7 linked regions of the Homo sapiens genome follow. The protein of the gene in region 6 interacts with the protein of the main gene of each other region in a pairwise test. Each region holds a gene or a part of one and is shown on either strand. Other genes may lie near its edges. The genes, in order: KIFAP3, SIRPB1, RBM24, ALG13, GCA, RBFOX1 and CELF3.

Region 1 (3,500 bases), on a different chromosome or scaffold from region 6:
CTTGCTGGAGTGAGTGAATTCTTGCTCTAGTGAGACTGGATTAGCTCTCTTGGGAATGGATTAGTTCCCTCTAGAGTTGGTTGTTATAAAGCCAGGAAGACCCTTGGGTATTCTCTTTTCTCACTTCCCCTTTGATCTTGTCCACTGTGTTATAATGAAGCACAAAAGCCCTCACTGGAAGCCAGAGTCATGCCCTTGAACTTCCCAGCCTGCGGAACTGTAAGCTAAATAAACCCCTTTTCCTTATAAATTACCTAGTCTCAGGTATTGTGTTATAGCAACATAAAATTGACTAATTCAGTATTCCATTTTATGGATATACCACATTTTGTTTGTTTATTGCTCATCTGGTGGTGGACATTTGGGTTGTTTCTACCTATTGGCTATTGGGAATAAAGCTGCTGTGAACATTACTGTACAAGTTTTTGTTTGAACACTTGTTTTGTATCTTTTGGTGTATACCTAGGCCTGGAATTGCCAGACCATATGGTAATTCTATGTTTAATTCATTGAGGAACCACTAAAGTGTTTTCCCTAGTGACTGCACCATTTTACATTCCCACCAGCAATGTATAAGAATTCAGTTTTCCGTATCCTCACTAACACCTGTTATTTTCTGTTCTGTAATTATTACTATACTAGTGGATATCAAATGGTATCTTATTTTGGTATTGATTTGCCTTTCCCTAATTACTAATGACATTGAGCTTTTCATGTGCTTCTTGGCCATTTGTCTTTATTCTTTGGGAAAAGGAGTTCTTTGTAATAGAACCTTGTCAGATACATGATTTACAGATACTTTGTCCCATTCTGTGGGTTTTCTTTGCACTATCTTGGTATGTAAAACTTTCATATGCAAACATTTTTAATTTTGGTGAAGTCTAATTTATTCTTTTGTTGCTCATGCTTTTGGCATCGTTATTTAAGAAACCACTGCTAAATCCAAGGTCATGAAGGTTTGTCCCTCTGTTTTCTTCTAAGAGTTTTACAGTTTTAGCTTTTACATTTAATATCCTTGATCCATCTCGAGTTAGTTATTGTCTATGGTATATGGCAAGGGTCCATCTTCATTCTTTTATATGTGACTATCTAGTTGTTCTGACATCATTTGTCAGAACAAATGTCAGAAAAGAACAATTGACTGTTCTTTTCCTCCATGAATGGTTTGGGCAATTTTTTTGAAAATTAAATGACCAAAAATGTTGGGGTTTATTCCTGCACTCTCAATTATATTTCATTGATCTATCTGTCCGTGTGCTAGTACCTCACTGTTTTGATTACTGAAGCTTTGTAGTGAGTTTTGAAATCCAGAAGTGTGAGTCCTCCAACTTTGTTGTTCTTTTTCAAGGTTGTTTCAGCTATTTAGGGTTCCTTATATTTCCATTTGAATTTTAGGGTTGGCTTTTTCATTTCTGCAAAAAAAGCTATTGAAACTTTGGGAATATAATGAATCTATAGATCACTTTGGGGAATATTGCCATCTTAACAATATTAAGTCCTTCAGTCCATGAACATGTGATTTCTTTTCATTTAGTTCATATTAATTTCTTTCAGCAACTTTTTGTTTTCAGTATACAGTTGTTCCTTGGTTACGTTTACTCCTGAGTATTTTATTCTTTTTGATGCTATTGGAAATGAAGTTTTCTAAATTTCCTTTTCATATTTTTCAGCTCCAATATGTAGAAAAACAGTGGATTTTTTTGGTGTGTTCTGATCTATTCTCCAACTTTGCTGAATTTATTAGCTCTAGCCAGTTTTTTGTGCCATTTTTAGAATTTTCTATATATAAGATTATGTCTTCTGCAGATAGAAATAATTTTACTTCTTCTTTTTCAATCTGGATGCCTTTTTATTTTTTTTTCCCATGCCTCATTGCTCTGGCTAGAATTTCCAGTACTATGTTGAATAGAAGTCAGGAAAGTGGATAAACATTCTTGTCTTGTTCCTGATCTTAGGGGGAAAGCTTTCATTCTTTCACCATTGAGTATGATATTGGCTGTAGATTTTTCATATATGCCCTTTATTATGTTAAGGGACTTTTCTTCTATTCCTAATTTATCAAGTACTTTTATCATGAAAAGATGTTGGGTTTTGTCAGATGCTTTTTTCTGCATCGATTGAGATAATCATGTACTTTTTTTCTTCATTCCATTAATGTGGTGTATTGTATTGAAATGCCCATGTGGCCATGTTGCGTGGTCCTTTTAATATACTCCTGTATTCTGTTTGCTAGTATTTTGAGGATTTTCACATCGACATTCATAAAGGGTATTGGTCTAAAGGTTTTCCTGTAGTGTCTTTGTCTTGCTTTGGTATCAGGGTAATGGTGGCCTCATGGAATGAATTAGGAAGTGTTTCCTCTACTGTTATATCTTTTGGAAGAGTTTGAGGGGTATTTATGTTAATTTGTCTTTAAATGCTTGGTAGAATTCACCAGTGAAGCCATCTGGTACTGGACTTGTTGAAAGGTTTATGATTACTGATTCAATCACCTTACTTCTAATTCTGTTCAGATTTTCTGTGTCTTTTGAGTCAGTTTTGGTAGTTTGTGTGTTTCTAGGAATTATTCTTTTTCATGTAGGTTATCCAATTTGTTGGTGTTCATATTATTCTCTTGTAATTTTTTAATCATCAAAAGAGCAGCAGTAATGTCCCACTTTCATTTCTGATTTTAGTAATTTGAGTCTCTTCTTTTCTTTTTTAGTCAGTCTAACTAAAAGTTTTCCAAAAATGTTTGTTGATCTTTTCAAAGAACTAACCTTTGGTTTCATTTTCTCTATTCTTTTTCTAGTCTCTGTTGCTGCTTTTTATTATTTCCTTCTGCTAGCTTGGGGTTTTGTTTGCTCTTCTTTTTCTAGCCCCTTAAGGTGTAAAATTAGGTTATTAATTCAAAATCTTTTATTTATTTTTTTAAATAGAGCGTCAGTATAGAGTGTCTTATTGTGGATCTGTTTGAGTTTATCTTTGAATTTCATTGAGCTTCTTGGATGTGTAAGTTTGTCTTTGGTCTAATTTGGGAAGTTTTTGACTGTTTTTTCTCCCAGTATTCTCTATGTTTCTTTCTTCCTCTCCTTTCATACCCTCATTATGCATATGTTGGTATACTAGATGGTGTTCCATAAGTCTCTTAGGTTCTGTTTATTTTTCTTCATTCTGTTTTCTTTCTGTGCCTCAAAATGGACAGTTTCATTTGACATATCTTCAAGTTTGCTGATTCTTTTCTCTCTCTGCTCAGATCTGCTGTTAAAAACCCTGTAGTGATTTTTTTATTTCAGTTATTGTACTTTTCAGATCTAGTGTTTTTGTTTGGATCCTTATGATAATATATTTTTAAACTATTTATGTGTTGAGACATTGTGTTTCTCCTTTTTCTTAGTTATTTGCACTGGTTTCTTTTTGCTCTTTGGACATATTTAAGACAGTTGATTTAAAGTCTTTGATAAGTCCAGTGTTTGTGCTGTAGCATGGACAGTTTCTGTTAATTTTTTTTATTGTGAGAA
Region 2 (4,178 bases), on a different chromosome or scaffold from region 6:
GGAAGCAGTGAACTCACCCTGTACACAAATGTAATTATAGCCACAATTTTTTGGTTATAATTAAATATGAATCAAACCTTCTGTATGGCTTATATTACTCTTACCATATCACTACAAGGTGCATGTTATAACTTCCATTTACATGTAATTAAGTTAAGGCTTAGAGAAGTCAAGTGTCTTGTTGAAAGTCACACAGCTGGAGATTGTAAGAAAAGGAATTCATCTACAGATTGACAAAAAGCAGGGTGAAGAGGATCCAGAGGGAGAAATTGATCTCAGAGTGTCAGAGGTAGACCAAGTACACCATAAAAGCTGGGTTCCAGAAGTCCGGGGAACATGGGAGAAGGCCACTGGTGGGAAACTCAGCATGCAGTAGAAATCCATTTAAAAGCAATATTTGAGTTCCCTCTCTTCACCTGGCACCATGAGTATCAATAATAACCTACTGAATCTCAGGGATGTATAGTCATTATCTCTTTTGATGTTCACTAAAACATGGCAGTGAGACTTATTATCCCAAGGTTAGAAGGCAAAACTGAACCTAGGCAGGCCCAGTAACTTCCCCAACTCCTTAGCACATCTTCTTAGGGTATTTATTCTCCCTCCCTCCTCAGTTCCCATCTGAAGACAGTGATGAATGGAATAGGTGTTCTATGTGCAGAGCAAAGAGTATTGAAATCGATGTGACTGCTCCAGGAATCTGCCCTCCATATTCTCCCCCATAATAAACATATCCCCTTTCCATAACCCATAATCCCCACCTCACCTCACAAAGCAGATCCTTATTACCCTAAGCCCACTTCCTCTCCTGGAAGAAGTCAGGAAATAATTCCTTCTGCTGGGTGCAGGCATATGAAAGTGCTAACGGCCACATGAGACTGAATTTGGGCTAAGTTTTGCCATTTATATTTATAAAAGTTCGGAATAGGGAACCATTTCAAGAGCAGACCTGTTCCTCTCCAACACTGAGCAGGTCCAGTGATCCCTCATCCTGCCCCAACTGAGTAGCACTTGGTTGAGGCTGTTGTAGAATGAGACCACAAGCCAACCACATCCTGAGGTCTTGAGATGGAAAGTTTAGGAAACATTTCATAACCACAGGTCCTTCCTGGCTTAAGAGCACCAAATGGCAAATCACCAAGAAGACATAAAGATGGGGTTAGGAGTCATGGAAGGAGTTAAGACCTCAGGTGGGAAGGAAGCATTATTTCTGCTAAGCCTGTCTGATTCTCCTGAAATGGGGCATGCATAACTGCTTGCATTGTAGCTGCTTGCTGTTCCTGATTTCTGTTTCACAATCCAGAAGCAGGTTACTGCTTCACTCCATCGCAGCCACTTCCTCTTGAACTAAGGGAGGCAGGGCTTGTCTTCTCTCCTCAGAGCAGAGTCTGCGATCTTCCCAGCACAGACGTTTGGACAGAGCAGGCTCCTAAGGTCTCCAGAATGCCCGTGCCAGCCTCCTGGCCCCACCTTCCTAGTCCTTTCCTGCTGATGACGCTACTGCTGGGGAGACTCACAGGTGAGCACTGCCTTCGGTTAAAATCTTTTTTCCTGCCCACTGAGCCATGGCCTGTCCCTGGACTTTCAGGGATTCCGGACAATGACAAGTGCTGCCAAGAAAGGCCAAGGATTAGGCTTTGACTGAGAGCAGAAAATCAGGGAGCTGAGCACTTTCTCTGTGGATCTGCAGCTGGCTACCAGAGGCATTGAACCACAGGACGATTCAACCACCACAACAACAATTACTTACATTTTGATAATATTTCAATTGAAAAAGCAGAGAAGAATCATTATCTAAATCCTCACCAGTCCTGAGGCCCTAGGGCCAAGTGACATGCCCAAGTCCACAGAGTAAGCTCAGAGACACCCTAACAGGGTTATGTGGCTCTAGGCCCAGCCCTCTCTCTTCACCAAACTGAGGATGTGAAGTCTGTAATAGTGCTCACTTGAGTAGGGCAGTGGTGTGGTGTATCCTGGGAGTGTTCAGCCACCATCCTCCCTAAGGGTGCTCCTCACTTTGTCCTCTGTTCCCCCATGCTCCTCCCTCCCCTGTGACCTGATTCTTACCACCCATTTCTCTGTGGCCTCTTCCTCTTTAAGAAGTTCCACATTTGCTGCTTACTGGGTCCTATATTCCTTTCCTAGGGCTTCCATAACAAAGAACTGCAGGCTGGGTGGCTGAAACTACAGATATTTACTTCCTTGCAGTTAAGGAGGCTGAAGTCCAAGATCAAGGTGTCAGCAGGGTTAGTTTCTACTGAAGTCTCTCTCCTTGGCTTATACAGGGCCATTTTCTCTCTGTGTCTTAAACACATGATCTTCCTCTGTGTGTGTCTGTGTCCTCATCTCCTCTTCTTATGAGAATATCAGTCTTGTTGTATTAAGGCCCACCCCAATGACCTCATTTAACTAAATTACTTCTTAAAGACCCTGTCTCCCAAACTGTAACGTTCAGAGGTGCTGGGGATTAGAGCTTCAACACATGCATTTTGTGGGACACATTCAGCCCATAACAGGTACTACAACCTCCTTTGGTTCTCTTAAATTTCCCATGGATAATTTCTTTCCCCTTCCCAAGACAGGCAGGATTGGAGGGCCTTTCCTGGTGCAGCCTGGGAGAACCCTGCTCACAGCTCCCAGACAAGTTACCTGTCCTGATCCCTTCTCAGGCCATGGAGCTGACCCCAGAACCACAGGGCTGGGCACAGCAGCCTCTCAATTCCCCACTGGGCCCTGCTGTGATGTCACCTCACAGGCCCTAGAGGGCAGGGGTCTCACTTTTCAAATTATTTTTCTCACACATACACTGTACCCAAATGACAGCAGTAAGAGTTTAACAATTGAGCTCTTCCTACCATGTAGACACAGTTATTAGCATTTTGCCTGTTTTAGCTCCACTAATCCTCACAACATCCCTGTGTGAAAGCTGCAACTATTATCCCCTATTTCCAAACAAAGACTCAGGCAGAGGGAGGAACTTGTCCATTCATTGTCCCCTACCTCAGTCAGTGGAGCAGCTGAGATTCAAGTCCAGGTCGACCGGCTCCAAAGTTCATTCTTTTAGTCGTGTTATGCTACTAGCAGAAATATTAGAAAATGCAGGGAAGTAAACATAGAATTAATTATTGCCTACCACACTTGTTAGCAACAACCAGAGTTACAACTGTGATGTATGTACTTCTAAATTTGTTATTAATGTGTTGGATGCTTTCTATGGGCCACATATTTTACTTTCTATGGGCCAGATATTTTAATGAGATTTTAACGTGTGTTGTAATTTTATTTAATACACAAAACAAACTTATATACTATCACAATAGGTCACACTTTGATATATATTTGTGAATGTATATGTGTGTGTCTATATATACATATATATGTGTGTGTGTGTATATATACATATATGTGTGTGTATATATATTTGCAAATGTGTGTATACATATGTGTGTATACATATGTATATGCATGTATGCATATAAGTAAGTGTACATGCACACACAGGAGATTTCATTTTTTATCATTGTTTCTCCAAGTTTCTAATTTCAATGAAACTTTTAACAAAATATTTTATTTTTATTTGACAGAACTGTATATACTTATCATGTATACCATATTAATGAAATATGTGTACATTGCAGAATGCCTAATTTGAGCTAATTAACATATGACCTACCTTGTATATGTATCATTTCTGTGGTGAGATCTCTCAAAATCTGCTTTCAACAATTTTTGAGGTTACGAATTGTGTTATGAACTCTAGACCCCATATTGTACAATAGATTTGTGGAACTAATTTCTCCTAACTAAACTGAAATTTTGTATCCTTTGACCAATATCTCTCCAAATGCACCCCCTGCCTAGTGCCTGGTAACCAATATTCTACTATCTACTTCTATGAGTTCAACTTTTTAAAATTCCACATATGAGAGACATTATGCAGTATTGTCTTTCTGTGCCTGGCTTATTTTACTTAGCATAATATCTTCCAGGATCATTTATATTGTTGGAAATGATAGGATTTCCTTCTTTGGTCAGGCTGATTAGAATTCCATTGTGTATACCAATTTCCTTTCTCCATTTATCTGCTGATGGACATCTAGGTTAATTTAATATCCTGGCTATTGTAAATAATGCTGCAATGGACATGGGAGCACAGATATCTCTGTGACATGCTTATG
Region 3 (3,500 bases), on a different chromosome or scaffold from region 6:
ATACACTTAAACATTGACTCAGTACCCCTTTAAGTGCTCAGTTTTATGCTGGGTGTGGTAACACTGTGCTTAGTTTTTATAGTGTCCACTAAGGAGGGCAGGAGGGACTGTAACTAACACTAACCAAACATCTGCCATATGGATTGTAATGATAAGGGATTTACATAAATTACATAATTTAATTCTCACAGTAAGTGTTTGTTGAAGGCATTGTTAATATCTTTTCCAAAACTAAGACACAGAGAGGTTAATTAACTTCCCCCTGATCACAGGACTGCTAAGTGTTAGAGGCTGAGTCTAGATTCAGAATCATGGTCTGCCTGACCTCAGAAGCTGCAGTCTTTCCTCTTTGTCAAGCTGTAGCCCCAAAAGACAAAACTCTATTCTCTCATAATCCAGTAAGAAAGCCGATAAGCACCAAGAAGGGCTGTCCATGTGGCTTCAGATAAGAGAGACGAACATCAGGACAATGAGTGGGATTCAGAAGTCTTCGTGAAGGAAGTAGAAGTTGACCTAGGTTTTAAAGAATGGTGGAGGGTAGGGAACTCTTTTATTGAGTGCCTACTATATTTGGCATTGTAGACTCTCTCCACAGATAATTTTATTTAATGCACAGCAATCCAGGGTTGTGAGATTATTAGTCCATTTCACATATGCAAAATAGGAGGCTATGTTAAGACAACAAAGCATAAAAAAAGAAACATATGAGACTAAACGATAAAGCAAATTTCTGAAACCTCTACACGTAGTGAGTGCTAGAGCTAGGGTGAGTGGGATTTGGATTTCAGCAGGTAGAGACAGTGTGAGGATTAGCATCTGGGTGAGGGATGAATGACATGAATAAAGGGCAAGAATCTGGGAATGTGAAGCTTGTCCAGGAAACATAAAGGAGCCCAGTTGACCTGGGTTTGAGGAAAGGTGGAAGGAAATACTAGAAAGGTGTTTTGGAGCCAGGGGCAGTCTGGATGTTTTGGCCTAGAATGCCAAGGCTTAAGAAATTTGCACTGAGTTTGGTTTTTTAGGGGCCAAGGATTACTTTGAGCAAATGAATGAGATGGAGTATTTGTCATCAGTTGCTGTGAGATAGATTGGAAAAAGAAACCGATTAGGATATTGCTTCAAAACCAGTTAGGATGTTGCTTTAAAAGTCACATAGAGATGTCAGTGGAACCTGAAGAGATGGGAAGAAAAGGAAAATGTAGTAAATTTTCTTTGAAAATTACCAAAAGTGTCTTCTTTGCACTTGTGCTTTTTGTAACTGCTAGGCATGCACGTTTTATGGTTAAGGAAACGACATTGGTAAATGTCTAATAGGAGGGAGATTCCCAGATCACCTTAATGGGTCTCAGACTATTAAAAAGAACTCCTAATTCAGGATTTCATTCCAAAGTGCCACTTGAACCTTCAGTCCAATTCTGCCTTCCTTCCTGACCCAGGATATTTTAGGCTCTCCAAGGTCTTTCGGGTTCTCCTTTTCCCTCTAAGCCTTAAAATGTTCTAGGTTTTCATTTGCCTTCCAGACGTCTCTTTAACCTTTGCCAAACTTCATGTAGGAGTCTGATAATCCAGTGAACTTTCTTTATATTCTCATTGTTTGACATTGTGAAATCAAAACTATTTCCTAATGCAAAGTAAATGCAGAGCTAAAGCCCCCTAAGCAACCTTGCCTGTCTTTTAATGCATTCTTCACAACACTTTCTCCTTTTTGTAGGATAAACATTTTCACTTAACACCTTAATTCAGAGATACCAACCTAGCACCCACAGTGTTGTTCTTGGAACTTTGAGAGTACAAGGGGTTAAGGTTTCGGTGTCAGTGAGATCCGCACTGGCTGGCCTTTGCAGCTGATAGATGTTTTACTTTGGCCTTATAAAGACATTTTACCCGCTGGAAACCCTTGTCGCATGACAGGATCAAAAATAGCCCGGCTGCAGCCCCTGCTGTCCATCACCACATGTAAACTGGCATAAGAGTAGGCTCTCTTAGCCGTGTCTACACGTTGTAGACACGGCAGCCTCCAGGGACAGTGTTTCATAAAGCCACACCTGTTGTTGCGAGTGAGCCAGTCACCTGACCTGCAGCAAAGTTCTGAGTGTGTGCATGACCACGCGCCTGGTTTCTGACAAGCAGTTAAGAACATCTCTGAGTGTCCTCAGAAACACTTGATGACGTCGTTTCTCCTGGCACTGGGAAACATCTACAAGTCTGGTAAAATTGAGTGTATTTTTATCATTGGGGCCAAAGTCCACTACCCTCTGAGATAAATTCATCTTTTCCATGGATGTTCGTTAATGAGTGCTTTCAGTAAAACTCTGAAAAGGCAAAGCAAAATCTATGTTTCTGAAAAATCTACAAGTGCTGTTTTCTGTTTTGAGTTCTTTGAAATTGAAAGGTTGTTACTTGTCCTTGTACTTCTTACAAGTTGGCTTTGCCAGCAACCACGTAGTATTATAGTGTCATGTTTTTAGATATAAATATAGGGGGCTTTAATGGAGATTATTTTAAAGAAGAAGATAAATCAGATATTTATGGTAGTGTTTCAGATGGGCAGTAATAAATTGCAAGAGTGAGAATGGAGATGCATGGAATTTTTGTTTAAATACCTCTTGTGATTTATTTTTTTAACCACATTAACTTTTAAGTAACGTCATTGGAGTCTGTCTTGTATTATCTGTGAATGTATAATTTTAAAAGATACTTGGTTTTGTTTGACTTTCTTGAACTTTTGCAGGATAACACATGATTATACAATTGATATGATTTGTACAAAATATCAACGAATAGGGCAGATTTCGAACATAACACTAACGTATTTCTGCTAATTTGGAGGATGAAACAAGAGTTAGTAGATGTGCAAAAAAAGTTTCCTTGTTATGTAAACCTTTTAAATTTCTATTAATTTTAGAAATATTTAGTTGTACTTCCCTGTCCTGCCTTTTCCCTCAACCTCATCATTTCCCCAAAACCCCTTCTGTCTGTCTTGCATAGAGATAAACAAGCTGGCTGACCCTCAGGTGCCTGATAGTCAAACAGGTTTGGTTGACCGTTGTGTCCTTATGAATTTTATGGGGGAAAAAAAAGAGAAAGAAAGAAAATAAGTGTGCTGCACATCTCTTTGGGAATCACTGCCATGAATGTTAATAGCATTTTTGTAGCTTCCCACGACAGCCTCTTGTGACAGAGTGAGCTGCACTACAGTTCGTTTGAGAAGTGTGATTCTGCTGTGTTTACCACACTTGTGAACTTTTAAACTCCTTTTTCTTATTTTGTCGCCTGCTTCCTTTTTTAATTATTATTTTTAATAAGGGTGACTGAGGTTGCAGAGAGATTAATGTGTGCTGAGTCTGCATAGCAATTTCAAGTAGGGTTGCCATGATAATAAACATACGGATTTTGTTAACGTTTATGTTAATTTCGACAAACTGGTGATCACCCCACAGAAGTGAATAATTATGGACTACCTTTTGAGTCCTATATTCTTGGCTAAGAATTTTTCTATT
Region 4 (3,490 bases), on a different chromosome or scaffold from region 6:
CTGTCCATACTTCATTGAAGCTAAGCATAAAAAATGGACAATTTCCCCTGTATTTTTGGGTCTCCATTCTGAAGGTTCCCATGTACACATTAATAAAATTTGTACGCCCTTTCTCTTTATCTGCCTTTTGTGAGCTGAGTTTTTGGTGAACCTTTAGAGGGTGAAGGAGTTTTCCCTTGGCTCCTACAACTATTGAAAGTATAGGATAATGAGAAGTCTGAAGTTCTATAAGAGGGTTATAAATGCTTTAAAAAAACACACACACACATACAACATAAAAGGAACATTTTCTGGAGAAAAGGCGTAGATATGGTAGTATGTGCTGCAATGACTCTAGATTAAATAACATCTCAAGTGGCCCTGCAACTACTCCCCACCAGTTCATGCTAAAAATTCACATTCTTTTGCAACCAAAATGCCAGAGAAAAAACATGTTGAAACAATCAAATGTCCGGTACTCTTTGCTGACATGAAAATGCAAAAAGAAAAAATCCCACTCGTTTTGGCAATTTTAAATGCTAATTTTTATTTACTGCTAACTGTGCAAAAGACACCAATTCAATACAGTGCAGTAAAACACTTACATACATCCAGTATTAAACAATAGCATATGGGATAAATCTAAAGCAGAGAACCATGTGCCTTCAAAACTGATATCACAGAATGCAACTGGCTTCAGATAATTCTCAAGAAACGTGAAGAGCTCTTTAATTTAATATTAAGTGAGTTATCCAGAAGCAAAGGCTCTTGGTTTTACTTTCTAGAAAAAAGTGGAAGTTACTCCAATTCTGCATGGTTTAATATGATGTGTGATTTTTGAACCAATGAAATACTTTATATTCATTTTATCAATTGGTACCATCAGCTAATATAAAGCTGACAAATGGCTGACAGGAAAACAGCTGAATACAATGAAGTATGCTCAATATGGGGCTAGTTGTACATCCATCTCAATTTCCTTAGTCACAGCCCAAAATAATACCCCTTAATTTTAAAGTACTATTTTAAATCAAAAGATAAAATAATTTTAAAGACAAATACAATAGTAAACACTAATCACCTAAATCATTTAACCACTAACATAAAATACTTTTTAAAAACAAAAACAGCAAGAAAATGGCAGTGCAAGAATACTTCATACTGCTGGATCTTACATACCCTGAGGTACATAATGAGAAGCTGGGGGAGATGGAGCAATACAGCCAATTGGCCCAGGATTTATAGCACCATGAATTTGAGAAGAACCACCATATGCTGTACCAACTGGATGCCAGGGGGGAACACAGGAATAATCTGGCACAACCGGAAGGCAGGAGTCAAAACCTGGCAAAGGTGGCTGCCCATAGGGATCTGACATTACTGGATAATAGACTGCTCCATGAGGGACAGATGAAGAATCAGCATTCGGAAAAGTATCTGAAAGAAAGGATGTATACAGTCTACTTTATATACAAAAATTCACCAAAACAGAACCCCATGCAACATAAATGGATGTTCTTATGTGTGAAAATAAAACTAACTATAAGAAAGATCACAGCAATTGCAGCAGGAGCACTTTAAATACAAATAATGAGTAAAGATAATATGAAAATTTCCAAATTAAAAAACTGTGAAATATATGTGTCAAATCTATTCAATGTACAGACAGCTATCTTTCTGGGATGATTTAGGTATCAGCAAGCTAAATACATAAATATTCTTTAGAGTCCTTCTAGTTAATTAAATTCTTGTAAGAGGTGGTCACAATTGAGTTATCCAATAGTTTTACAGTATACATCATCCGAATAACCATTTAGCAATGAAAAACTCAGGTGTCTAGACATTCTGGTCTATACCTGAAAGTATAGCTCTGAAGAACACCCTAAAAGTGTCATCTCCTGAATGTCATTAAGATCACATTTTAATTTCATAGCACTTTTGCCATGAGTCAGTTCCAGTAGAAATAAATGCTGTTTTAACCTTGCTATAATGAGTATACACATTAGACAAAAAAAAAAAAAAAAAATTCATTACTTGGGCTTAGATTAACTCTGTGAAATTAAGACTGCCACTGCCTCATAGTTAACTACAATTAAAAATAGCTCTATAAAAGGTATACTGCACAAAATTCAAAAAAAAAAGATTGACACTGTAATATGCTTTAAAAATGGAAAGGAAGAGAGAAATTAGTATTCCTAATATGCACCAGGTAATAGTATACTTATACATAAGGTCCCAATTAGTTCTTATAACAACCCTGGCAAGTCAGGTACGAACTCCTGACCTCAGGTGATCCACCTGCCACAGCCTCCCAAAGTGCTGGGATTATAGGCGTGAACCACCGCACCTGGCTCAGTGAAGTATTTTAATACCTAGCCTTTCAGATAATTGTAGATATTCTTTGATGCTACACCCAAACTACATAAGTGGTAGTTCCTCAAAGGTCACTAGCAATGTGGATTTTTCATGCTCTGTTACATTAAAATCCACTGTTTTATCTTGCACTTGGAAAGATCTGTTACAAAAATCACACCTTGGTCATATCATGCATTGGTAATTGGGAAACTCTTCCTTCACTGAGTTATGCAGATCTTCCAAATGTTGACACATTTCCTCATACAATTTAAGAAACTACATTCAGCTCTACTTATCTTATTACAGGAGTTTTAATTGGTGGGAAGGTGTCAAGCTCATGGTGGAAGATACATGTTTTCCAAAATTCTAATTTTTATTTGAAAGCTAAAATTGTATCTTTGGCAACAAATATTACTAGTTATTTATCCTAAAGTGACAGGCTCACTTTGTTCATTTAAGAAAATGCCGGCCAGATCAACTAAGTGTGAATAATGATAGCTTATCCCTCTTTCAAGTCAGCAAGTACAACTCATAACTTAATAGCACAAGTCTTTTTCCTTAAGTTAATCATTATACTTCATTTAGTATGCAGAAGTGTTTTATAAGTAGTTCCATTTTTGTCACAAAGAAAAATACAACTATTCAAGGATAAAAATTTAGTAAAAATGTCTTTGATTAAACAAAAAAACATAAGATTGGCATTTTTGTACCATGGGTGTGTGGCAGTGAGAAAAACACTGATTACTAGCAGAGTCTGGGGTCAGTACCAACTAGTGCTTAGGTGTCAGCAGTTTTACCCACCACTGGTTTCTATGTCCTCAATGAAAATGCAAGCCAGTGAAAGGGGCAAATAAACTCTTAGTATTATTGTGAACACTTCTGACCTCATGAATCCCTTGAAAGAGTCTTAGGGACCACAAGAGGTCCACATATCATGCTTTGAGAATCACTGGTGTAGTACATGGACCTGATGAAATATATGAAAGCTATTATTGAATTACACACAATAAAATCCAACTGTCTTTCTTGCTGGCAATCTCATTACACACTCACCATTTGCTGATGCTTCCGCCTGTATGCCATCTTCTCTCCTCACCTCACTGTAGCATTGAGGAACGGTTTGATCTACCAGAGGTGGCTCAGTATAGACTGGATA
Region 5 (3,500 bases), on a different chromosome or scaffold from region 6:
TGGACATATATTTGGAAACTCTTTTTGACTGCTGAACTATTTCAGCATTTTAATTGTCAGCAATAAATTCGCTATGTTTGAACTATTTGATACTTTCCTTAAATTTCCCAGTCTTGTGCTTTTGAATAAATAAACTCCATAAAGACAGGGTTCTGGTCATATTTTCCCTACTTGACAGGTAGATATTAGGAATATATAAACATTTGATAAATGTTTCGTATGGATGAATTAACTATCCCATTTTCAATTTTTAGTCTAAATATTTAGACTGTATTTTTTCATATATTGAGTTCTACCTAGCTTTGAGGGATCAGGTGCAACATCTGACTTAGGTATACTGCTCCTGGAACCCAACTACTGAACTTACATCTACAGCCATATCCTTTTTTGATGGGCCTCATAATTAATAATGCTCTATGAAAAACACCTGATTAAAGGTTTCTGCAGTGTTCTTATTTATAGGATGAAGTATTCTAAACAGTAAGGATTAAATCATCAATTAATTTGGGGAAATTCTGGTTTCTGTCTTCATACATACAGACACATGCATCACAGTAATACCAACAACTTTAACTTTTGTATGCACACTGCTTCTACTTTTCCACACAGCAACTGTGATGTGGGCATGACACAGCTACCTTTGTATTATAGATAAGTAAGTGGAGACTCAAATTGAGTAACTGAACAAATAGGACTTGAAGTTGGATATCATTTTAAAATCTTGCTGCCTAACGAAGGGCAATTGATTTTTGTTAATTCTCTACCTGATGCTCTTGTAATTTAATTAGGACATTCAGCTTTCTACCGCTAATGCTACCTAATTCAGTTAAGGGAAGAATGCTGCTTAGTATTTTGTAATTTCTATTAGAACAGCTGCAGTTTTGTAAGGGGTTCTTTTGCCAAAAATCCATTAGAATGTGAGTGTTAATAATATTTCTTAGAAGTAGTTTAGAAAAGTTTTTTGTTTTGTTGTTTCTTGGATCTCTTATGAAGAGTAGGTTTTAAATTTGCCTCCTTGATCCTTCATCATAGCTACATTTTGCATTTGTGCCAATGTTTGTGATGGTTCCAAAGGAATTACTTATTTTTGTCAAAAACAGGATGAGGTACTAAATCATAATGAGAATACTCAACCTATTTCATTTCCATTGTGATTTCTTGTTTGCATTTTAAAACTTTATTTTCTGTAGTAAGTTCAGGCAAGACTTGTTTGGGCAGTAATCAGAAGAATAGCAGCAAGATACAGGGGGACTCTAGAATTTTGCTAGGGGTAATGGTGGGGGAAAATATATTTTCCCCTTCCAGTTAAAGCTTCAGTATTATTTATAAATAATCTCCTCCCAAAACAGCATGAGTGGGGATGTTTTCGAGACTTTTCTGAACACATTTTAGGCATTTTTCTAACTGTTTAACTGTTTTTCTAACTGTTTAAAATAGAAGTACAATGACTCTTATGAGATTGTCTTGAACCATTATAGAACAGGGTAATTGTGCTATTCTTCAGAAGTGGAAGAAATTATTTCTGTGGTATGATATTTTGTAATATGCCTTTGTTGTCAGTAATTATCTCTAGAATTTTGTAGTTAATTATAGAGTAATGTTTCAAAGAATGCATATGTCTTGATTGGCCTAGAACAGTCAATTGACATTTTAATATGCTTTTATACAACTGCACATTAAATTAGGTCATAATTATTTTTAAACAGGATGGTGAAGTGGATGCTGAAGAACTTCAGAGATGTTTGACACAGTCTGGAATTAATGGAACTTACTCTCGTGAGATCTTTTTTCCCCTTTTGTTGAAATTATAATAGGAAGTTTATTTTCTTACTTTTTTTGTCCCTGTAATTAAAATGTTTAAAAAATTATCACAGTTATACATGCACATAGTTTAAGGAGTCAAATAACTGTAAAACTCGTTATGAAAATAACTGTTCATTGTGTATTCCTGTCTCCTTAACATTAACTGCTCATAGAGGACACTTCTTTTGACTTTTAAAAATCTGATTCTTTTGAAATTTGCTTCCAGATTTCAAGATAGAATATTTTTTTCACGATTGATTTTTGGATTTTATGATTATCTATTGATATCCTGCTATGAAAGATGAGGATTTCACTTTATTTTAACCTTAAACTCTCCCCTGTCTCTGCACTCCACAGAGGAACATTTCCCATCCTCCTGTCCTTCCAATGTAGTTATAATATATAGTAACTTTTGTTAGGTATGTTAGTCTTTACCTTATTTTTACTATCTGAATGCTGCTTATAGCTGTATCTTATGATAATGTATGATTACTTTTCCTTTTTATATAATGTTTTGCTTTTCTTGAAATCACTAGTTGTCAGGTATTATCCTAGAACTCTGGGATATGCAGTTTTTTATGTGTAGCTGTCATACTGGGATTCTTTCACCATCATTCTGAAGCTGGTTTCCCCGTTTCTCTTGAGTTAGATCTCCTTTTTACTCCATCTCTTGTTGTCCTCTTTTAAAAAATTCATTATCTTATTTTAGTGAAATGTATAGTTAAGCAGCTTCTTAATATAAAAAAAAAATACGGCCAGGCGCCGTGGCTCATGCCTGCAATCCCAGCACTTTGGGAGGCTGAGGTGGGCGAATCATGAGGTTAAGAGATCGAGAGCACCCTGGCCACCATGGTGAAACCCCGTCTCTACTAAAAATACAAAAATTAACTGGGCGTGGTGGCACGCACCTGTAGTCCCAGCTACTCGGGAGACTGAGGCAGGAGAATTACTTGAACCCAGGAGGCAGAGGTTCCAGTGAGCTGAGATTGGGCCACTGCACTCCAGCCTGGTGACAGAGTGAGACATCATCTCAAAAACAAACAAAAGAATATATGGGAGATAAATTTTTGAGAGCTTATGTATCTAAAAATGCTTTCATTCTACCTTCAGAATTGATTGGCCAGGTATAGAATTCTAGGTTACAAATGATTCTCAAGTAGAATTTTAAAGGTATTGCTCCATTGTTTCTAGCGTCCCTTGTTGCATTATCTTTCTCTTTCCTGCCTGGATGTGATGTGATTTGTTATTCCTCTCTGGAAACTTGTGAGATCTTTGTCTTTAGTATTCTGCGATTTGATGGTAAAGTACCTAGTTGTGTTGTGTGGGGAACTCAGATGGTATTCTCAGCCTGGAAACTCCTTTGCTTTAGATGTAGGACGTTTTCTTCAATGATATTTTCTGTTTCTTGGAATGCTTTTTGTTTTCACTGGGTTTTCTACTTTTATCATCTTTTTCCTCCTATCATTTTTTTTTGCTGAACTTTTTGGGAATTTTCCTCAACTTTATTTCCTAAACCTTCTATTGAGTCTTTCATTTCTGCTTTTCATTAATATCCAAGAGCTTCTGTTCTATTTTCATGAATGTGATATTGTCCCTTATCTCTCTGAGACTATTAATATATTTTTAAAGTTTTTTCTTCCTATATAACCTTTGTTTTTTCCAGATTGTTTTTTCTCCTCATTTTGCTTGTTTTGGTT
Region 6 (3,500 bases):
CAAATTAGAAATAAAATGAGTCATCTGCAGTAACCATTAGGCATGTAACGGTTGCAGATGGTATGGTCGAATTATTAGTGGTTACAGACGTTGTAATGATCACTGCCAAGTTTTAGGCAGTTTGAAGAAGGAGGTTGCTTTTTTGTCTTGTTTTGCTTTTGACTTTGAAATCCCATGCCTATATTTAACAAGAGACAAAGGGGGGGAAAAGCACAAAGATCTTTGTGACTGTTTTTCTCTGTAATTGTCCTCACTGTAAACCCCTGTCAAAGTGGGAAGACAAAGACAGGATAGAGCACCAAAAGGAAAGAAGATGTCTCATGTCCAAATAACGTGAGAAGTACCGAATTGGAGTTAAACTGTAGTTTCTTGCAGTAACTATGACCCAAAAGAGGAAACCCTCCTAAATTCCCTAAGCTCCAGTGCAGGGAGCCAATGAGAATGTTTACAGATGCTTCACAATGTGATTCCTGCCACTAAATGTATCCTATAACAAGAACGGCTCCATGACCACCGGTGTTTGGCAGGAAAGAACAGATTTTTAGTGCATAAAACTGCATTTCTTTAGAATAGTGGTTGTAAACTAAGGAGGCTTGAAAGTCATTGCAAGGGGGTCTATGAATCTGTATGTTCCTGGCACTTTTATAGACAAAATTTACAGAAACAAATAAATCTTGCATACTTTTAAAAAAAGGGACACAGATGCTATTTGTGATGAACAAGGTTGAGTTTGTGCACTAAATGCATGGTGTGTTCTCTTAATTGACAGGTATTAAGTGTATCTATCATCTTGCCAAATTGACATCTTGTCAGTTGCTTGAAAATCTTGACTTTAAAGTGAAGTGGTGAATGCATGTAGTCCCAGCTAGTCAGGAAGCTGAGGCACAAGAATCGCTTGAACCCAGGAGAAAGGTTGCAATGAGCCGAGATCATGCCACTTCACTGCAGTCTGGGTGACAGACTAAGACTTTGTCACAAAAAAAAGGGGGGGGGGGGGTGCTGGATGGGTGCAATAGCTCACATCTTATGCTGTAATCCCAGCACATTGGGAGGCCAAGGCGGGAGGGTTGCTTGAGGCCAGGAATTTGTGAGCAGCCTGGACAACAAATTGAGACCCCATCTCTATTAAAAAAAAATACTTAAAAATTAGCCAAGCATGGTGGCTTGTGCCTGTAGTCCCAGCTACTTGGGAGGCTGAGGTGGGAGGATCCCTTGAGCCCAAGAATTTGCAGTGAGCCGTGATCACACCACTGCACTCTAGCCTGGGTAGCAGAGTGAGAACTTGTCTTTTTAAAAACAAGAGCCCTGAAACTAGTAGATTTGGATCAAGGTCTGATGACCGGTAGTACAATTTTTTGGCAAGATCTTGCTCCTTGCCGTCTACCCTACCTCTGTAAGACTAGAGAGACTCAGGATCCCTTCTCTGATTCCTGTGAATATTTTGAATACCTCTATGACTTAGCATTGTAGCCTGCAGTAACTTTCACGATAACTGAGTGACACCATGAAAGAGTGTCAGGACGGTCATTAAGGGGATCACATTGAAAGCCAACATCACAGTGACACTTGATGAGAAAAAAATAGACTGCATAGCAAGATGTCTTCCTAACCTGACACGGCAAAGAGAATATAACTCCTCTTACCGCCCATCATTCACACCTGGTCTTACTGCCTCACACACACTTAACCTCGACTCTCACTTTGAATGCTCTGCACTTTTCAAAGTCATCTTTGACCTGAAAGTGCCCGAGGGTATCTCTGTTCTGCAGGAGTTGGAAGGCTCAACTCAAGGTTATTACCAAATGAGAGAGATAAAAGTGCAAGAGCTGACCTTTTCCTCTGAAATGTCAGCATTCAAAGCTGGGTATCTTCAATATTAGGATGCTCGCTCTGCTTTTGTGTCAGATGCATACTTGATAAGCATCACGTGTGTATAAGAAGTAAAAGGTGCAAGCTAATCCCCAACACACAGTGCCTTTGAGTAGTGAACAAGAGCCTCCCATTTTATATGGAGACACCACCAACTTGGCTAGGAATGAGGCATTCAAGTTGGGCATCTTCTTGTTCCTTTTGTGATATTTGCATCCATTTATTAACTCTTAGAGGAAGAGTCTCTGAGAAGCCCACCATTGCTCTAAGTCAAATGTTAAGGATGTAGTTCTTTTCATTGAATCCAGAGGCACCTGCTATCATTGCTGGGATGTCATGGGCAAATTGGCTACATCTGCAAACATGAATGATATCCAAGCCCTGTCACAGCTTTGTCCTTTGGTGGAACACTGGTCAAAGAAATGGCAAACTCATGTCTTCCCAAAGTGGATAGTGAAGATATCTTCGAGAAAAAAATAATCAGGGGCAAGATGACCTATAAAAAAAGCAATGCTATTATTTTCTCCTGGGTCAGTGGTGACTTGTGGCCTGCTCTGTGTTTCACCATGGTGCCTGGGCAAGGCTACACTTCATGGCATATAGCACCACAGTAAGTACCTCTGAATCCTTTTCACTGATTTCAGAAGAACGTAGACTTCAGGAATCAACATGGACTTAGAAACTGGTAGCTCATTTGGTGTCGGTGGTGGTGGTTTTGTTTTGTTTGCTAAAATCAGCTTTATGCAGAAGTAGTTGTTCTCTGCTGATGCATCTGAAATCTAAATGCACAGTGCCTGGGAAAGACTAGGCAATGCAGGGATACACTAAGAGTCACCCTCTGGATCATTTGACAACTGTAAAAGAAAGCAAAACCAAGAGGACTCGATGTGTATTTTTGCTGCAGTATGATGTCCTGGGCCATTGGATTTAGGACCATCAATAGGCTTCCTTCAACAGTGGGTCATCTAGGAATTTGTGTTCCATTTGGCCTACAAGTTACTTCTTAGAAGAAAGCCACTTGGTAAAGTAGATACATGGTGAGCATATGTACAGAAATACATGCTAAAACCATAAAGAGATTCTAGCCACAATATACCTGCAGACTAGGCTCTAAATTGTTTCTCCCCATACAAACATCTAACCTTAGTATTGTAAATACCCCAAACTTACATGAGACAGGGAGGTCTCTGGAACCCCCAGAGCGGGCACTGCTGGGAAGAAAGGTGATACTTACACCAAACATTTGTCTGAGGTCCGGATCCCGGAACCTGAAGGGGATATTGGAGACATGCAGCCGCTTGGGCTGAGACTTGTTTTCCGTGTTTTCAGAAGGTTGTGTCTGGGGCTGGCCATCCGTCGGTGCTGCGTCATCTGTCTGCTAAAAGAACAAGAAGAAACCGAAGAGGTTCTCAGTGGACCACAGTGCTCTCTTCCGATGCTCTTTTGCTTGCCATGAGTGGCAGGAAAAGATCAGAACTAAGCAATCTGAGAAGGGAAGAAAATGCTGACGCATGCATGCATGCATTCATTCAGCAAGTGTTTTCTGAGCGTCCACTGGGTGCTCATTATGAATCTGGGATTAGGCAGTGGGAAAAGCAGACAAAAATCCCTGCCCTCAGGGAGCATCATTC
Region 7 (3,500 bases), on a different chromosome or scaffold from region 6:
CCTCTGGGCCGAGGCCAGGCAGGTGGGGAGCAGAGCTTCTCTGGGCATGGGGTGTGAAGTGAGAAGGCAGAAATGCACAAAGCAGTGGGAAGAGGGGAAAGAGCCCAGCGTTAGGAAGACTTGGGTCTGACTGTCTTGCAACCCTGGACAGGTCGCTTCACTGCTCTACACCTCAGCTTCCTGGCCGAGCCCAACAGGAAGGATCATCCCCGCCCAGGATGGCAGGGCAGGAGGAAGCACCTGTACCCCCAAAGCTGGGAGGGAAGGTGTGTCCTGCCTCCCTAATGGGAGTGGTGGTTTAGATGGTTGCTGGGACGGAGTGGGCAGGCAGAGAGTCCCACCTGGGTAGGGGTGAACCCCGTTGGGATACAGAGCATCAGGGGCAGGCTGCCCAGTGGGCTGGGTGGGCACCGGGCTGTAGCCGTTGACGCCCAGGGCAGCCGGAATGGCAGAGACAGGCGTGGCAGCGATGGCAGGAGGGGTGCTGGTTCCTGGGGAGGAGAAAGCGACAGGGAGAGAGCAGAGGAGCAGACACACACACAGGCAGAGAACCAGTCAGCAAGTCTGTGGGCAGAGGGGAGGAAGCAGGCCTCTCTGACCCCTGAGTCCCTCCCAGACCCCGAGGCTTCCCTGAGCAATGCCCTGTGCCCCTCCCTACCCCTACCATGCTTAGCTCCCTTGCCCGGCCTTGCCCAGGCCATACCTGAGGATGGGGTGATGGGGGTGGCGATGAGGCCATTGGCATTGATGGCAGCCATGTGCTGCATCTGCACGGCAGCCATGGTGGCCATGGGGCTGAGGTAGGCACTGTGAGCCGCTACCAGGGCCGCCTGCTGCTGCATCAGCTGGGGGGAGGGGAGAGGAGAGTGGGGCAGGCCCCCTGTGCCCAAGCCTGGCTCCCTCCCAGCCCGGGGCCTTGGCATCGGGAGGGTGGGGGCAAGATACAGGGGGTCAGGAGGGCTGGCCCGGCATCAGGGGCAGTGCTCACGGCCTGGGTGTAGGCGCTGTAGGCTCCAAACTGGAGGGCGATGGGGCTGAACATGCCCAACTGGGTGGCCACCTGCTGCATGCGGCGGAGACCTCGCTCCTTCTCAGTGTCAGCAAACTTCACCACCAGGCTGGACGAGGCACCCTGGGCACGGGCCCACACACAGGTCAGAGGTGCAGGGTCAGGGTCTCTCCTCCCCAAAGCCCTCAGGACCTGGTCTCCATTCCACCCCCATGGCATGGCTTGGCCTCTCTGAGAGGGCGGCCACCATTTTGCGTATGAAAGATGGGGAGATATTAATCCCACTCTCTCCCTATGCTAGGATGTGCAAGAGGCTAGAAGAAAAAATGAGGAATGTGAAGGCACATGCTTGGAAAGTGAAAAGCCTACTGGAATGAAAAGGGCATCATTGGCTACTCTGTGAGGACTCTGAACTGGAAATCATCCCCACCCTGGGTTGCCACAGCAAATGTTTAATCTCAGGCTAGTCTTCCCTTGTAGCTGCCCTGCGTGCCTTACCACGACTCCTGCCCCCACACCCCAGTCCTCATGGTGTGCCTCAAATCTTAATACTAGTCTGAGCTGAATAAAAACCAAATTGGAGCATTTGCAAGGATGATGGTAGAATCCTAGAATCTCAAAGCTGGAAGGGGCATAGGGTCATTGGACACAGTTCTCTACCCAATGCTGTGTCCCCTCCACCAAGGCCCCGTGAAATGTCTGCCCAGCCTTTGCTGGAGAGCTGTGAGTTATGGGAAGTGCACAGCCTTCTGAGTCAGCCAGTTCCAATTTAGAGGTGGGCTCTAGACTGGTCACTGACCTAACGCTGCTGTGCAGGGGCAGGGAAGAGGGGTGCACGTGGGGCCTCTAAGCAAGTGTCCTGGCGCCCCAGCAAATGAGGGTAGGGGGATATGGGAAGGCTGGAGAAGAGACGGGGGTGAAGGGAGGGCTGGGGAATGGAGGGAGAAGGAGAGGGATGTGAGGGAATTTGGCTGAAGGTGGATGGGGAATAGGGGAGGAGTGGGGAGGTGGGGAAGTGCCATTTGAAATGTGAGGGTGTCCCTAAGCAGTTTGGTTCTTCTGCCAGGACATTCCTTTCCAATAAATTCAAATAGCCCATCCTGAGTGGACTGCTTCTCTGGGCCAGGGCCTGGCAGGTGGGCAGGGTGGGAAGGAGAGGCCCGGGGGCAGGGGAGTGGGGCTCACTGGCAGGGTCCGGCTGCTGTGAAGGGTGTTGATGGCCGCCTGGGCCTCAGCGTGGGTCTGGAACTTCACGAAGGCGCAGCCTGGAGAGGTTGAGATGGAGGAGGAGAGGGGTAAGCACCCATCCCTGCGGGACCCCGCGGTGGAACCCGATGCCTAGGGAGTCTTGGGGGTGGAACAGGAAGGGGAAGGGCCCGGTGGGGAAGGGGGAAGTGGGTGGACTACCTTTGCTGGTGCCATCTGGCCCCCGGAGCACAGTGCACTCGTCGATGGTCCCGAAGGGCTCAAACATCTTCCGGACGTCCTCATCTGTCTGCTGCTTCCCTAGCATCCCCACAAAGAGCTTCCGGTCTTCTGGGTGGTAGGGCACAGGAGGAGGGCATGTTCAGGGCCTCCTGGCTGCCTTCCCAGCCCTTCTTCCGCCCTTCCCTGGAGCTCCTAACACTACTTCTGCTACCCTTAGGGTCCAATGGCTGTAGGGGCTGATGGTTGGGGAATGGGGTATAGTTGCAGAGGGTGCTCATCCCAGCTCTGAGGGACTCGCACTCCACCCTGGGCCTCAGTTTTGCCATCTGTACCCGCCCCAGATCTCACCCGCTCTGGCCACACTGACTCCTATCTCACCGCAGCTGGGAACTCTTCAGAATCATCAGGCTTTCTCCCTCAAGAAAGGCTACCCCTCGACAACTCCAGGCCCTGGGCCTGGGGGTGGGAGGAGAGGGACAGAGTCCAAAGGCACAGAACCTACCTCCTCGGCTCTCGCTGTCGGCTGGCTTGACCTGGATCGGCCTGTTCATCTGAAGGAGAGAAGAGAAGGCAGCTGCTGGGGACCTCCTCTGAACACCCAAGAGCCCTCCCAGGCCAGGCCCTGCAGAGAGACTAGAGGGGCAAGCCCCAGGCCCTCTAAGTTTCTGATGGGAAGGAAGGGACAGGGCCTAATACTGTTCAGGATGAAGGCCTGAGGGGATCAGAGGCACAGAGAGAGAGGATGTAGAGGGAGAGGCTCATGGGCACAGCTCCAGGCTCAGGTTGGGCTCCTGATGACTTGGCCAGGGATGGGTGCTGCTGTCCTGAGTGGGAGAAGGGGGCCTGCACATAGGACCCGGGGCCTGAGAGAGAGCCCGACCAAGGAGTTATTTAATAAGAATTGCCTCAATTCTACAAAGTGGGCGCAACAGAGGCCACTCTGAAGAAGCCCCAAGGAGGACTCTAGACTGAGGGAGACCCCACAAAGGCCCAGACTTCCTTCTGACCTCTAGAGGTGTGTCTGCCTCTCTTTCTGCCCCCCTATACCCCTTGACCCCAGGGG

The links.
Region 1: the proteins of RBFOX1 (region 6) and KIFAP3 interact in a two-hybrid assay, tested with the Homo sapiens proteins (one large-scale study listed by BioGRID and IntAct).
Region 2: the proteins of RBFOX1 (region 6) and SIRPB1 interact in a two-hybrid assay, tested with the Homo sapiens proteins (one large-scale study listed by BioGRID).
Region 3: the proteins of RBFOX1 (region 6) and RBM24 interact in a two-hybrid assay, tested with the Homo sapiens proteins (one large-scale study listed by BioGRID and IntAct).
Region 4: the proteins of RBFOX1 (region 6) and ALG13 interact in a two-hybrid assay, tested with the Homo sapiens proteins (one large-scale study listed by BioGRID).
Region 5: the proteins of RBFOX1 (region 6) and GCA interact in a two-hybrid assay, tested with the Homo sapiens proteins (one large-scale study listed by BioGRID and IntAct).
Region 7: the proteins of RBFOX1 (region 6) and CELF3 interact in a two-hybrid assay, tested with the Homo sapiens proteins (one large-scale study listed by BioGRID).

The regions. Positions count from the first base shown.
Region 1 is NC_000001.11:170,068,196-170,071,695, reverse strand, and holds part of KIFAP3 (kinesin-associated protein 3), read left to right. Parts: intron 1-2,778; exon of another isoform or gene 2,779-3,500. UniProt on the Homo sapiens protein: Involved in tethering the chromosomes to the spindle pole and in chromosome movement. Binds to the tail domain of the KIF3A/KIF3B heterodimer to form a heterotrimeric KIF3 complex and may regulate the membrane binding of this complex.
Region 2 is NC_000020.11:1,617,210-1,621,387, reverse strand, and holds the start of SIRPB1 (signal-regulatory protein beta-1 isoform 1 precursor), read left to right. Parts: upstream 1-1,378; 5' UTR 1,379-1,443; coding exon 1,444-1,519; intron 1,520-4,178. UniProt on the Homo sapiens protein: Immunoglobulin-like cell surface receptor involved in the negative regulation of receptor tyrosine kinase-coupled signaling processes.
Region 3 is NC_000006.12:17,287,861-17,291,360, forward strand, and holds part of RBM24 (RNA-binding protein 24), read left to right. Parts: intron 1-1,711; exon of another isoform or gene 1,712-2,165; coding exon of another isoform or gene 2,166-2,208; intron 2,209-2,988; coding exon of another isoform or gene 2,989-3,033; intron 3,034-3,500. UniProt on the Homo sapiens protein: Multifunctional RNA-binding protein involved in the regulation of pre-mRNA splicing, mRNA stability and mRNA translation important for cell fate decision and differentiation. Plays a major role in pre-mRNA alternative splicing regulation.
Region 4 is NC_000023.11:111,757,660-111,761,149, reverse strand, and holds the end of ALG13 (UDP-N-acetylglucosamine transferase subunit ALG13), read right to left. Parts: coding exon 3,388-3,490; intron 1,417-3,387; coding exon 1,151-1,416; 3' UTR 501-1,150; downstream 1-500. UniProt on the Homo sapiens protein: Catalytic subunit of the UDP-N-acetylglucosamine transferase complex that operates in the biosynthetic pathway of dolichol-linked oligosaccharides, the glycan precursors employed in protein asparagine (N)-glycosylation.
Region 5 is NC_000002.12:162,350,632-162,354,131, forward strand, and holds part of GCA (grancalcin), read left to right. Parts: intron 1-1,706; coding exon 1,707-1,776; intron 1,777-2,780; exon of another isoform or gene 2,781-3,102; intron 3,103-3,500. UniProt on the Homo sapiens protein: Calcium-binding protein that may play a role in the adhesion of neutrophils to fibronectin. May play a role in the formation of focal adhesions.
Region 6 is NC_000016.10:7,579,524-7,583,023, reverse strand, and holds part of RBFOX1 (RNA binding protein fox-1 homolog 1), read right to left. Parts: intron 3,248-3,500; coding exon 3,104-3,247; intron 1-3,103. UniProt on the Homo sapiens protein: RNA-binding protein that regulates alternative splicing events by binding to 5'-UGCAUGU-3' elements. Regulates alternative splicing of tissue-specific exons and of differentially spliced exons during erythropoiesis.
Region 7 is NC_000001.11:151,706,804-151,710,303, forward strand, and holds part of CELF3 (CUGBP Elav-like family member 3), read right to left. Parts: intron 2,989-3,500; coding exon 2,940-2,988; intron 2,546-2,939; coding exon 2,417-2,545; intron 2,275-2,416; coding exon 2,195-2,274; intron 1,133-2,194; coding exon 989-1,132; intron 846-988; coding exon 704-845; intron 492-703; coding exon 342-491; intron 1-341. UniProt on the Homo sapiens protein: RNA-binding protein involved in the regulation of pre-mRNA alternative splicing. Mediates exon inclusion and/or exclusion in pre-mRNA that are subject to tissue-specific and developmentally regulated alternative splicing.